4 linked regions of the Homo sapiens genome follow. The protein of the gene in region 1 purifies or fractionates together with the protein of each later gene. This does not show direct contact. Each region holds a gene or a part of one and is shown in the gene's direction. Other genes may lie near its edges. The genes, in order: EFCAB13, ZC3H4, LYRM4 and NFS1.

The links.
Region 2: the proteins of EFCAB13 (region 1) and ZC3H4 purify together in Homo sapiens (affinity purification with mass spectrometry; one large-scale study listed by BioGRID and IntAct). This does not show direct contact.
Region 3: the proteins of EFCAB13 (region 1) and LYRM4 purify together in Homo sapiens (affinity purification with mass spectrometry; one large-scale study listed by BioGRID and IntAct). This does not show direct contact.
Region 4: the proteins of EFCAB13 (region 1) and NFS1 purify together in Homo sapiens (affinity purification with mass spectrometry; one large-scale study listed by BioGRID and IntAct). This does not show direct contact.

What each region holds. Positions count from the first base shown.
Region 1 is NC_000017.11:47,322,333-47,326,786, forward strand, and holds the start of EFCAB13 (EF-hand calcium-binding domain-containing protein 13), read left to right. Parts: upstream 1-1,622; 5' UTR 1,623-1,742; exon of another isoform or gene 1,743-1,767; intron 1,768-2,121; 5' UTR 2,122-2,191; intron 2,192-3,893; 5' UTR 3,894-4,055; intron 4,056-4,454.
Region 2 is NC_000019.10:47,063,687-47,066,231, reverse strand, and holds the end of ZC3H4 (zinc finger CCCH domain-containing protein 4), read left to right. Parts: 3' UTR 1-2,045; downstream 2,046-2,545. UniProt on the Homo sapiens protein: RNA-binding protein that suppresses transcription of long non-coding RNAs (lncRNAs). LncRNAs are defined as transcripts more than 200 nucleotides that are not translated into protein.
Region 3 is NC_000006.12:5,250,911-5,254,590, reverse strand, and holds part of LYRM4 (LYR motif-containing protein 4), read left to right. Parts: intron 1-3,680.
Region 4 is NC_000020.11:35,692,846-35,696,525, reverse strand, and holds part of NFS1 (cysteine desulfurase isoform a precursor), read left to right. Parts: intron 1-65; coding exon 66-149; intron 150-3,680.

The sequences.
Region 1 (4,454 bases):
GAAAACTATATGGAGGTTTCCCAAAAAATTAAAAATAGAACTACCATATGATCCAGCGATGCTATTTCTGGGCATATATTGAGTAACTGAAATCAGTATATCAAAGACTTATTTGCACTTCCATGTTCATTTCAGCATTATGCACAATCGCTGAGATAATGGAATCAACCTGTGTCCATCGATGGATGAATGGATAAAGAAAATGTAGTAAACATATGCAATGGATACTATTCAGCCTTAAAAAAGAATTTCTGTCATTTGTGACAACATGAATCAACATATGCAATGGATACTATTCAGCCTTAAAAAAGAATTTCTGTCATTTGTGACAACATGAATCAACTTGGAGGACATACTAAGTGAAAAAAGCCAGGCACAGAAAGACACATACCACATGATCTCACTTATATGTGGAATCTTAAAAAGTCAAACTCATAGAAGTAGACAGTAGAATAGTTGTTAGAGGCTGGAAAGGGACGGGGCGGGTAGGAGATGCAGGATGGGGAGATGCTGTTCAAAGGGTACAAGGTTCAGTCAGACAAAAGCAGCAAGTTTCTGAGATCTATTGCATAGTGTGGTGACTATAGCTAATAATAATATATCGTATATCTCAAAACTGCTAAGAGTAAATTTCAAATGTCTCACCATAAAAAACGTTAAACAAGGTGATGGATATGTTAAGCTTGACTTAGTCGTTCCATATTGTATACATATATTAAAATATAACATTGTACCCCATTAAATATTTACAATTATGATTTGTACATATATTTAATAATAATAAAAATCTAAATAAAATATTAAAGAATGCCTACAAAGCAAGGTTTAAGATGTAAATGAACACAGTAGTATCACGGAAGGGATTAAATATTGTAACATTTATTGAGCACTACGTATATATTTTTGAATTCCCACAACCCTGGAAGAATGAGAAAATCGAGACTCAGGGAGCGTTAAGTATTTTGCCCAACTGCATACGATAAATACATAGGAAAAACAAACACACAGAAGAAAACCAAACCAACCAAAGTATCTCTTTCAAAAGGAAACGACAGTCTCCTTAAAGGCAACCCGAGACAAATTTCAGCAAAGCCGTGGGACACATGGCCTTCGAGCTGCTGTCCATTATTGAGTAGCAGAAGCCAAGAAGGATGGAATGTTTTGGAAGAAAGGGGTCGGGGGTCGGGGTGTTCAAAGGACGGACCGAAGGTAAGATTGAAGTGGGGTCAGACCATGGCGGGACAGCGCACCGGAGAATGAACAGCGATTAGGGAAGAGTGGCGAGCGGGTGGCAAGGACGGAGGGCGGAATCCCGGCCGGGGCTGCGGGAGGAAAGCGCACGGACAGGAGCCCCACCGCTCGAATGCAGCGCCCGGCGGCTGGCCTCGTGAGGTCACAGGCCCTTACGAGGTGGGGCAGGCAGGCGCGGCCGCAGTGCCTTCCAGTCAGCGCGGAGGCGGTATTGAGTTCAGCCGCTCCCCACAGCCCCGGAGCCCCTGGGCGGTGGCGGTGGCCGCGGCAGCACCGGCTCGACAGCCGATAGGGTCCTGGGCCCGCTCCGCTCGGGGTGGTCGGTGGGCGGAGCGTCGGGCTCGGTCAGGTGACCGCGGGGGCGGGGCCGCGCGGCGCGGGATCCTGGGAAGGCTGCAGAGCTAGAGCAGCGCCGCCCGAGGGGCGGCAGGGGCTGACCACAGAGAGCGCGGGGGCCTCCAGCCGAGAGGAAGGGAGGGCAGCTCGGGCCGGTAGTGGGACCCTTGGGGGACAGAGGTGGGGAGGGGAGGCGAGACCCGCTGAGGAGTTGGGAGGGGAGCCTTCGAGGTGGAGGGTGGAGAATGCAGTAGGGTGCGAGGGAGGAAGGAGAACAGTGGTGGGGCTGGGTGAAGGAAGGTTCCAGAAAGGAACAGTGAGGGGACTGAGTGGGACAAAGGGGCAGATTGAAGGGTGACTGAGACTGATCAGGTGGTTCCTCAGAAATGGTGGTTGTTGTAGAAGGCTGGCGGTCCCGGGGGTGGTGTCACTTCCCTGCTCCTTCAGCGGGAGGCGGAGACCTCTATTAGCACACTCATTTCCATCTTGCGGGTCGTTCACTCGCTAGCTTACAGGTCCTCTTTCTTCCTGTAGAAGTCGTTGGCTTCGTAAGAGCAGGGTCTATGGGAAGCCTCCTCAGCGTGGGTTCTTGGAAGAGGTGGAGGTTCGTTCACTCGACGTTTGTTACACAAATATGAAAACAGGGTGACGAAAGTTTGAACGTTCATGAATGGCAGTAGCTGCAATGGAGTTGTGTATGCAGTTGGTATTAATGACGTTTTCAGTCCCTCTGGCGAGAGAAAAGCGAGCGAGTCGGGCGGCTTGTGAGGGAAATGTGGCATGAGAGGAAAGAGGAAGGTATTTTGTGAAAGGATGTCATACAGAGTCATGCTTCAGTGAAGACGCCTTTGTTTTTCTCATCTTAAAGCCTCACAGCCCCATTTTCCTCTCAGCTACTGCCTTATTTCTCTTAACAACGTAACTCCTTGAAAGAGCCTACCCTACTGGCTGGGTTCAATTTCTTTACCCCGTTCTCTCTTGTACTCACTCTGACGACATTGTCTCCTTACCACCCCACCCAGATGGCTCCTTTCAAGTTTGTCAGTGTCCTCCGTGTTGTGAAACCTAGCGAACCATTCAGTACTGATCTTAACCGCCCACCCCACCCCCCTTTTTTTTTTTTGAGACAAGGTCTCTGTCGTCCAGGCTGGAGTGCAGTGGTGCAATCATAGCCCACTGCAGCTTCAAACTCCTGGGCTCAAAAGATCCTCCTGGCTCAGTCTTTGGAGTAGCTGGGACTAAGGTCGCCATGTCCAGCTGATTAAAAAAAAAATTCTGTAGAGGTGGGAGTTTCACTGTTGCCCAGGCTGGTCTTGAACTCCTGGCCTTAAGCAGCCCTCCTGCTTAGACCCCCACCCCCGCATCAAAGTGTTGGGATTACCTGCATAAGCCACCATGCACAGCCTGATTGCTCACTCTTGAAGTACTTTCTTCACTTGGCATTCAGGAACCCAGACCTACCTGATTTCCCTCCTCACAGTAACCAGAGTGATCCTTTCAGAAAGAACTTCAGATTATGTAATCCTTCTCCTCAGAACTCTTTCAATGCTTGTCACTCCTTCAGAGTACAAGCCACAGTTCTTACTGTCATCTAGGGGTCCTCCATGATATGCCACTTTCACTTAGCCTCTCTGATCTCTCCTGCTTCAGCCTCCTGGGGCCTTCCCACTATTCCTTGAACATTCTTCTTGCCTCGGGGCTTTTGTACTTACTTTTCTTTCTGGCTGAAATGCTCTTCCCTAAGATATTAATCAGCTCCCTACTTCAGTTCTTGCAGGTCTGTACTCAAAAGTCTCCCTCTCAGTAAGGTCTTCCTTGGCCACCCATTCTGTTCCCTGCATCTCTTCCCCTATACTACATTTCATATTCCCCTCCCTGCTTTACTTTTTTTTTTGTACTTATTGCAGATAACATACAATATGTTTTATTTTTCTATTTTATTATTTCACTCCCTGACTAGAACATAAGCTTCATGAGGGCAGATTTTATATATATATAAACAAAATATATATATATATATATATATATATATATATATATATAGCATATATATATTTTGTTCATTGGTATATCCCTAGAGCCTAGGAGAGAACCTAGTGCACACTAAGCATGCAGACATATACGTTGAATTCATGGATAGAAAGGTGAATGGATAGATGACTGGAGAAAAGGGATACGACTCCCTCCATTTCTCTTGATTTGTTCCTGCAAGTTCACCGATAGAAGACAGGATTGAAATAGTTGAGAAAAATTATATTGTCAGAGTTACAGGGAATAGACTTTCTAAGTTAATTTTTTCTTTTAAGTTTGGAGAGGCTTATGCGGTACCTGATTCATCCAGCAAATTAAGACCTGCCAACTTTTTGATAATCTCGTCAATAAATTACAGAACAATTGTTCCTTTCAAGATTTATTCAAAACGTGTCAACTCTGCTTAATTAAGCACTTTGATGATTTAAGAAATCTTGGTGAGTAGCTTAGTAGGAAGGGAATTTGTTCATTCATCCCTCTCTCCCTCTCTTTTCCCCTCCCTCCATACCATTCCTCCTTTCCTCTACTCTTTCCTTCATTATATATATACCATTGTATTTGATACTGTGAGAAATAATTTTAAGAATGATAAGTTACCAGTCCCAGTTCTTTATAAATTTAGGCTATAGTTGGTATAGGAGCTATACATATGAAAAATACAAATACAAGGCAAATGATTAATGTCAGTTAAATAGTGAAGACAAGAATAGTGAAGGCAGTAAGTGCTATGCACAGTAGTTTAGAGGTAAATATTGAACTGGTTGGAGAAGATCTAGAAGAGATTACGTAGGATGGGTTACTGGGGAGACCTGCATAGATTTCCAGTATTTTCTGAG
Region 2 (2,545 bases), on another chromosome or scaffold:
TTGCTTTCCGTCTCTTTTATTTTTTTTTAAAGTAGTACTTTCTTTGAGATTTGTAAATTGTATATAACCATCTTAAGTTCTGGTCAGTGTGGCGGGCTCAGGGGCTCCTGCTGAGCAAACCGACTCATGCCCGCAAACCTGTGAACTTTCGCCAGTGCCTGGCCTCAGACTCTGTGGGCTCTGCGTGGCCGGGCCTTGCTGGAGGCCCAGTGGGTTTTCTGGGCAAAGCATGGCCCCTTTTCCCCAGGACAAAGGGAACAGTTGGTGTCTGGGAAGGTATTGAACGCTCCTCACCCTGTGCCCGAAGAGACCCGGAACCAAGACCATGGCAGGGCCTGCGTGGAAGCAGGTCCAGGCGTTTCTAGAACCCTAGGGTGCACCATCACTGTCTTTTCAGTGCAGGCTGTAACAACCCACTCAGGAGACAGTGAGAGTGAAAAGGTATTAAGGAAAAAGCCCCCAGCGGCACTATGGGGGCTCCCTGGCGCATGCCTGCTCCTGTCCCTGGATTACCACACGTGCCCTCCCTGCCACCCTCCGTCTAGAGCAAGCGGATGCCCCCCAGCCTGCAGCAGAAGCCTCCACAGTGAGAACTGGACCCAAAGGTAGTGGGGGCCGGTGTGGGGCAGAGTCCTGAAGAGCCACCTCTAGGAGGCAGCCCCTAGGAGCACGCACGTTCTGTCAGTATTACCCCACCTGTCCTATCAGGTGGGCCACACCCTGCTTGCCCACACCAGGGTCTGTCCTGGTCCTCAAGCCACGCACCCGCTATGCCTGCACTGCAGCCCAGCCCCGGACAGCTCCAGGATCCGTGCAGTGGCTGCGCCGCCAGGCCCCAACAATGGGGACCCTGGGGTGGCTCCTGGCCAAGTGTTCTCTGTTTTCCTCGCACCTCCTTACACTGTGTGACCTGCAGGGCATGAGGTATTGATGTGTTCGGGTTTCCTTTCCCAAGCCAGCAGATGCAGGTGTTCCAAGGTGTGTTGCTCTGTGGGATTTGTGGACACTTAAGAAACGGACTGAGTGGGAACCCTGCAGCCAGGGGATGGGGAGCCTCTGCTCCCCCCATGCTCCCACCCTGGCTGAGGGCCAGCCTCATCTGCAGAGCCCTGGAGGAGGCCCACCTATGGACACAGCCCGAGAGATGGGCGCAAGGGGTGCTGGGGGAGGCCTGCTATCCTGCCTCTGGGCCACTTGAGGGGCCTCAGGAAGTGTGTGCTTGTGGCTGCATCTGCCCGTCTCCCTGGCCCACCATGTGGCTGCAGGCCAAGCTCTTCATTGCTGACCATGAAGAGACCTAGTTACCTGCCAAGGGATTCCCCTTCCCTCCTCCTCAGGGTGGGGTGAACAAGGCTCCTATCCCACCCCACCCCAAAAAGAGAAAAATGAAAAACTCATAGTTTGGAGCCAGGAGGCAGGGTGTCCTACAGGGCTGCACAGCCCTGAGGGGTCAGTGCTGGGATCTGGTTGGTTGGTTTGTCTTTTTGTCTTTTTTTTTTTTTTTTTTTTTACACAATCATTAATGAGATTTGTCTTCAGCCACCAGTGTTGGCCTTGAAGCAGAGGGCACAGCCCTTGGTGTTTGTAAAATAAGTATGAATACACAGTGTGGCAGTGTTGTGGTTTTTGTTGTTGTTTTTCCTCTCCTTTTGAGAATTTTCTTTTGTAAAAGAAAAATATTTTTTAAACCGAAATCTGTGGATGAAATAGAAGCTGGAGCCCTCCTCTTGGAATATTCAGCCTAAGAACCTCATAGGACTATGAATTCACCCGAAATTCTCATTTGCCATCAGGCCGAGCTTTTAAAGAAAAATTGTTCTCTAACCAGGATTGTAACAAAAGTGTAAATACTGTTTCAGAGTTGAGAGTTGGTGGTGCAAATATGTATATAATGAACTGTATTTTTACAATGATCGCCGCATGACTATTTCACACCCTTTTTATACTCCATATCTGTCTTCCAGAAACGTCACCTGCCTTTCTCCTGTGGTCTCTTAATCCAGTAATTGTATTACTGCCATTAAAGGATGCAGTTATTTTAAAAAGCTTGTGGGTCTGGTCTCTCCAGGCTGCCCCAGACCATCCCTTGCCCTGGGAATTAACGAGGGTGGAAGGTGGCTGGGGGGTGAAACAAGGACCTATTCTCTCAGCGGTCGGCCTCAGGGTAACATGAGGACACTGAGGGACAATTTGTGCCTCCAAACAGTGTCAGCTGTCCTCAGTGGATGGCAGTAGATCACCTACTAGCAACATCCCAAGGTCCCTGAGCTTCTGTGCGGGCCACGCTCAGCATTTGGGATCCAGGGGTGACCTGCACAGTCCTGGATCTGCCCCTGCAGTGCTCATAGAAAGACCATTAACACAGACAGGACAGCTGGGCTGGCTTCCAGGGACGGGACGAGCTTTAGCAGGCACCCTACCCATGTGATAGCCAGGGGTATCCTCTGAGGAGGGGTCTGTTGTGATGTTGGAACTTACTTTGAAATGCATCAACAAATATGAAGGATGGGTGGATAGATGGCTGAATGCATGATCAATACAGTTT
Region 3 (3,680 bases), on another chromosome or scaffold:
TTACCAGAAATTCTGTCTTATCTCTATTCCTAGTGCTTAGCATAGTACCTAGGTAGCAAGTTGGTGCAAAAGTAATTGCGGTTTTGGGCCATGAATTTTAAATTATTATAACTAGGATCAAATATATCTTTATTAATCAAAATAGGAACTATTACAATCAACATGTTTTTGCCAACAAGAAATAAGTTTATTCCTGTGGCGTAAAAATCCGTGCTTCGGGATTCTACAAACTCTTGGAAAGCATTTTCTTCATCCTGCTAGTCAAGGAAGCGTTTTCCCTACAAAAAGTTGTCGAGATGCTTCAAGAAGTGGAAGTTGGTTAGCGAGAAGTCAGATGAATATGGCGGATGAGGCCAATTCGTTCAACTTGTGAAGCGTTGGTTTTGTGACATGCAGTCAAGGGTCATTATGGAGACAGTTGGGCCGTTTCTGTTGACCAGTGCTGGCTGCAGGCATTGCCGTTTTCAGTGCATCTCATGGATTTGCTGAGCATACTTCTCAGATGAAACAGTTTTGCCGGGATTCAAGAAGCTCTAGTGGAGCAGACAACCAAACAGTGAGCATGACCTTTTTTTGATGCAAGTTTGGCTTTGGGAAGTGCTTTGGAGCTTCTTGGTCCAGCCACTGAGCTGGTCATCACCAGTTGTCACATAAAATCCACTTTTCATCACACATCACAATCTGATCGAGAAATGGTTCATTGTTGCATGGAATAAGAGAAGACAACACTTCAAAACGATGGTTTTTTTTTTTTTTTGCTCAGCATGAGGCACCCACTTATTGAGGTTTTTCACATTTGCATTTTGCTTCAGATCGAACGACCATCGAATGGTCAACATTGAGTTCTTTGGCAACTTCTCGAGTATTGTAAGAGGATCAGTTTCCATGATTGCTCTCAATTGGTCGGTGACAACTTCCAATGGCCGGCGACTAGGCTCCTCATCTTCAAGGCTCTCGTCTCCTTTGCAAAACTTCTTGAACCACCACAGCACTGTACCTTTGTTAGCAGTTCCTAGGCCAAATGAGTTGTCGCAAGTTGTCGCTGCAGCTTTTTGACCAATTTTGAGCTCAAATAAGAAAATTGCTGAAATTTACTTTTTGTCTAACATTATTTCCATAGTGTAAAATAAACATAAACAGCAAGTCATTAGCAAAAAAAAAAACTGAGAATTGCCCATTAAAATGATGTATAACATAACCACATTTATTTAAGAATTTATTCCAGTATCAAACAGCAAATTCCAGCAATGCAAAAACTGCATTCCTTTTGCACCAACATAATAAATATTCATTGTTGAAATGCAAGAGAAAATTATATTCAATGTATCCCTCTTATAGCTTAAGAAATATGTTATTGTAAAACTTGAGAAAAGGCTAAAGTGATGCCCAAATGCATACCAAGTGTAGTGTCAGAACTCCCTAATTCTTCATCAGATATTTGAGTTTTTATTAATGTGTTATACACTAAGCATTGTGCAAAGAGCTTCAGATCAAAATGAGCCTCCTATTAAGGGTAAAACATTACAAGCTCCTAAAGAAGTTTATCAATGAAGTACAAAGGAAAGGCCATAGAAAGGAGCTGGTCTCCTAAGTGCCACCTTAAAATTAGGAATGCTTTTGACCAGAAGTCATAGGAAGCCCTTACACAGGGCTTAATTGGGGGCTTATTCTTCTCACATAGGAAAGGTCTAGAGGTATGTAGCTGCCAGAGCTTATTTAGCAGCTAGAAAATGTCAAGGTATGTGTGAGTCTCGGTGTTCCTCTCATGCTTATGCCTGATGGTTGCAAACAGCTTTTGAAGCTCCAAATACATCCTTATTTAGTCAGGAAGAAGAAGGGCAGTCACAGCCAGGAAAGGGTAAAGCTTTCCAGGAGGACTCTGCTTTTGCTCATTGACCAAAACTTCATTACGTTTATATCACTAGGTAAACAACAGGCTGGAAAATTAGGATACAGCTATTCTAGCATCTCTAGTGAAAAGACAGCAGAGAGAAAACGGTGGGAAGAACTATTGATTAGGCAACAGTCTGTGTCAGCCACAGAGGTGGACATGCGATGGAAGAGCATTCCAGGCAAAGACAGTAAGGCATGTGAAAAGTAAAATGCAAGGCGTGTGTCAGAACCAGACGTGGGTAATTGTGGCTGAAGTGTTGGACTGAGCTAAATGTCATGATGTTAAATGCTAGGTAAAATCCCCAGTAAGTAACGAAATAGGTTTCAAGGCAGAGTGAGGCATAGAGAGGAGAAGCAACTTGATTGGTCTCACAGTTGGTCAAGGGCAGAATGGGATTAGAAGGCCGCCTCGCTCCCCGTGGGCTGCCGCTTCCACAACCCCATTCTTTTCAGAAGAAAATTCCTGCACCCATGCATCCTGTGAATAAGCCTGCAAAATCTGTAGAAACATCAACCTGGAGAAGTTTATTTTCACAGTTCCTCCTTATAGGTGAAATGGTTAAACAGGCTCCCTAGTTTCATGAGTGGTAAAATTCCTAAGTCCTGATCAACCTAAGTGCTGATCAACGTCAGGTCTCGCTTACTATGTACTACACAACTGAATGAAACACTGATATCTGTGATTGCTGTCTTAATGAAGGAACCAAATAATGATTCGTGTTTAGGAATCTGTTTTCTTTTTGAGCCATTGGAACTCTTTAATATATTACCAGTCGCAATCCAGATTTATTGGCAAGCTGAGGAATTAGAACCATGAGCTCCTGGAGTGGGAACCAGGCAGCCCTCTCACTCATCAAAGGATTTCTTTCACATGTTTTCCTTGTTGCGGATCTTTTAACAGTGACTGCCTCTTCCACCCTATGTGTCACTGATTGATCAAGAAGGCTAGCATGCAATGATACAGTTTGGATGTTGTCTCCACCCAGATCTCATGCTGAAATGCAATCCCCCGTGTTGGAGGTGGGGCCTGGTGGGAAGTAATTGGATCATGGGGGCAGGTTTCTCATGAATAGTTTAGCACCATTCCCCTTGGTACTGTCCTCACAATAATGAGTGAGTTCTCATGAGATCCGGTTGTTTTAAAGTATGTGGCATCTCCTTCCTCGCTTGCTTGCTCCTGCTCTGGCCTGTGATGTGTCTGCTCCCCCTTCACCTTCTGCCATGATTGTAAGCTTCCTGAGGCCTCCCCAAAAGCTGAGCAGATGCCAGCATCACAATTCCTGTACAGCCTGCAGAACTGTGAGCCAATTAAACCTCTTTTCTTCATAAATTAGCCAGTCAATGTGAGAACAGACTAATTCAAATACCACCCTAATATGAATAGTATTAACAAGCACCTTTCACTTTGTAAAACAGGGCAGCTACAGTGAAAGCCTTCATGCCAAATATTCTTCTGGAGACAAATCAACAAATCCATTTCTTCCTAATATTTCTTGAAAACTCACAGTGTGTGTGTGTGTATGTATATATTACCACACTAGAACCTAGTAATAGGTGGAATCAAACACAAGATGGCCCTGCTGTCACAAGATTGTAGTATGGTTGCGCATATGCAATGTACATATAAGGACGGCTCAAGAAACTTACAGAGGAAGCATGCAAATTGAAATAGTGCCCGAACAGTGGAGATTTGCAGAATGTACTGGGGCTGAGGAGACACCTTGCATAATGATGTTTTGGCTGTCATATATCGTATTACAGAAATATTTTTTAAATAACATTGTATT
Region 4 (3,680 bases), on another chromosome or scaffold:
TGTGTCTGCAGCTCTATTTCTGCCTGGGGAACTGATGTTATATATCTCTGTTTCTTGGCTTGCAGCAAGTAGCATCTCTGATTGGAGCTGATCCTCGTGAGATCATTTTTACTAGTGGTGCTACTGAATCCAACAACATAGCAATTAAGGTAAGAGAAGGGAACCAGAGGGTGTATGTGGGCTTTCCTGACCTAGGAGATAGTGTCCCTCCATCATTTGGACTCGTATATGTATTTCGCAGCCATCCATCCCCACCCCATTGTGAAGAGAAGGCTTGCAGTCTTTCTGATTTGTTGCTTCCTTTAACCCTTTGCAGTCTACTCTTTCTTAAGTCTTTGCTGCTGTTGGTCTGAGTTGAGTGAGGCAGTTGGATAGCAAAGGAGGTGGCCCTCAGGCCATTAACCACTTGTTTTTTTTTTGTCTGGCAGTTACTTCAGAGAGTGGATAATGGTGATTGAACCTTTTCTCCATTCTTCTTTTTTTTTTTGATACATAGTCTCACTCTGTCGCCAGGCTGGAGTGCAGTGGCGCAATCTCAGCTCACTGCAAACTCCACCTCCCAGGTTCAAGTGATTCTCCTGCCTCAGCCTCCAGAGTAGCTGGGAGTACAGGTGCCCGCCACCATGCCCAACTAATTTTTATATTTTTAGTAGAGATGGGGTTTCACCATATTGGCCAGGATGATCTCAATCTCTTGACCTGATGATCCTCCCATCTCGACCTCCCAAAGTGCTGGGATTACAGGTGTGAGCCACCGTACCCGGCCTTTCTCCATTCTTTTTATCTAGTAACAACAAGTTATATATGTGATTTCAGGGCTGTCCTCCTCTCAGCCTTCCTTTTTCTTTCTGATCAGATCTATTTGCAACAAGTTCCTCCTGTTTCTTTAGATATCTCCATTTTGAAGTGCTTGTCTTTGTGGTGCCCTCTGCAGGCATTCACATGGTCACCCATTCTGGGATCAGTCATTTTGTCCTGGGTACATAGAAGATCTTTGGTGCTAATGCAAGGAAAAGGTACTTTTAGTAGTCACGTTGGTGTTTCATAGAACATAGTCAGATTTCACTGGGCCTGGTTGCCAGGATTATGTGAGTAAATGCCAAGGCTCTGAGAAATTGTGGCTTGCTGTACTTTGAACTCTGGCTCCACTTGCTCTCATCTTTGTCTTTGAACTGTGCTGCCAGTGTTGGTTTCTTTGACCTTGGCCTGAATATAGGAGGCCTAGGACGGGCTTCAGGGTCATCAGCACTCTGCCTGATCATGTTAACAGGAAGGCATCCTTCCTTGGGACTGCAGAGACCAGAGAGTCGGGGTGAAGGTTCCTCCAAAGGTGGAGATGGTTTCTGAAATGGAGAGCATTTTCAAAACTTCGAAAATATTTTCTTTGGAAGTCTCCACAGATTCCAAACCAACAGGTCAAGGATCGCTAAGAGTACCTGTGATGATGTTTCTTTTAATCTCCATGATTGGTAGAGTAAAATAATCTATAAATTGTTAAAGAAATCTACATCATGGGTAACTGAGATAAAATAAGGTGGGTGGGTGGTGAAATGTCATTTAAATGAAATTTTTATAAACAACTGTAACATTTTGAACTATCATCACCATCCCACAACCATTTTTTCTTTTTTTTTTTTTAGACTGAGTCTCACTCTGTCATCCAGGCTGGAGTGCAGTGGCACGATCTTGACTCACTGCAAGCTCCGCCTCCTGGGTTCACGCCATTCTCCTGCCTCAGCCTCCTGAGTAGCTGGGACTACAGGCGCCCTCCACCACACCCGGCTAATTTTTTGTATTTTTAGTAGAGACAGGGTTTCACTGTGTTAGCCAGAATGGTCTCGATCTCCTGACCTCGTGATCCGCCCTCCTCGGCCTCCCAAAGTGCCCCACAACCATTTTTACTTACTGATGTAAATACTTTTTAGGATAAAATAGAGTATAAATCAATTATAAATGTTTCTCATTTATGTTCTTTGTCCTCATGAACAGACCATTTTTACATAGTTATAATTTTGTCCTATATGGTTTAATATTCTGCTTTTATTTTATTTATGTGTTTATTTTTTATAAGACAGGGTCTCAGCCGGGCCCAGTGGCTTACACCTGTAATCCCAGCACTTTGGGAGGCTGAGACCGGCAGATCATCTGAGATCAGGAGTTCGAGACCAGCCTGACCAACATGGTAAAACCCCGTCTCTACTAAAAATGCAAAAACTACCTGGGTGTGGTGGCACACCCCTGTAGTCCTAGCTACTTGGAAGGCTGAGGCAGGAGAATCAGTTGAACCCAGGAGGCAGAGGTTGCAGTTGCAGTGGGCCGAGATTGCGCCATTGCACTGTAGCAACAAGGGCGAAACTCTGTCTCAAAAAAAAAAAAAAAAAAGACATGGTCTCATTCTGTCACCTAGGCTGGGGTGCAGTTGCACAATCACAGCTCACTGGAGCCTTGAACTCCTGGACTCAAGCAATCCTCTCATCTTAGCCTCCCAAGTAGCTAGGCTTACAGGCGTGTACTAGCACGCCTGTCTAATTTTGTTATTTTAATTTATTTATTTATTTTTTTTTGAGATGGAGCCTGGCTCTGTCGCCCAGGCTGGAGTGCAGTGGCGTGATCTCAGCTCACTGCAAGCTCTGCCTCCTGGGTTCACGCCATTCTCCTGCCTCAGCCTCCTGAGTAGGTAGGACTACAGGCTCCCACCACCACGCCTGGCTAATTTTTCTATTTTTAGTAGAGATGGGGTTTCACCATGTTAGCCAAGATGGTCTCGATCTCCTGACCTTGTGATCCGCCTGCCTTGGCCAACCGAAGTGCTGGTTTTACAGGTGTGAACCACCGCGCCCGGCCTGTTATTTTAATTTTTGTAGAGATGCGGCTCTCATTATGTTGCCCAGGCTGGTCTTGAACTCCTGGGCTCATGTGATCCTCCTGCCTTTGCCTCCCAAAGTTCTGGGATTACTGGCTTGAGCCACTGCACCTGGCTTTTTATTCTGCTGTTAAAGGTAATAGTCTTTTATAAGCTCTGGGGAGAGATGCACATTTTCTTTCCAAGTTTTTAATTTTTGAAAAATAATTCTGTCACATATGGTGTGTTTTTTTAAAACCAATGGAAAGATTTAAAATGAAGTGTAGGCCGGGTGCAGTGGGTCAAGCCTGTGATCTTAGCACATTGGGAGGCCGAGGCAGGCAGGTTGTCTGAGCTCAGGAGTTCGAGACCATCCTGGGCAAAATGGTGAAACACCATCTCTACTAAAAAATACAAAAAATTAGCTGGGTGTGGTGGCTGTAGTCCCAGCTACTCGGGAGGCTGAGACAAGAGAATTGCTTGAACTCGGGAGGCAGAGGTTGCAGTGGGCCGAGACCACACCACTGCACTCCAGCCTGGGTGACAGAATGAGACCGTCTCAAAAAATAAATAAACAAAAATAAAATAAAATGAAGTGTAAATCTTCCTCTCCTTCCCCAAGGACCCCAGTCCCTGATCCTGTTCTGCAAAGTTGATACTGTTAATTCTTTTTTTTTTTCCCAAGGGGGAGTCTTGCTGTGTCACCCAGGCTGGAGTGCAGTGCCGTAATCTTGGCTTACTACAACTTCTGCCTCCAGGGTTCAAGCGATTCTCCTGCCTCATCTTCCTGAGTAGCTGGGATTACAGGAGCCTGCTACCACACCCAGCTAATTTTTGT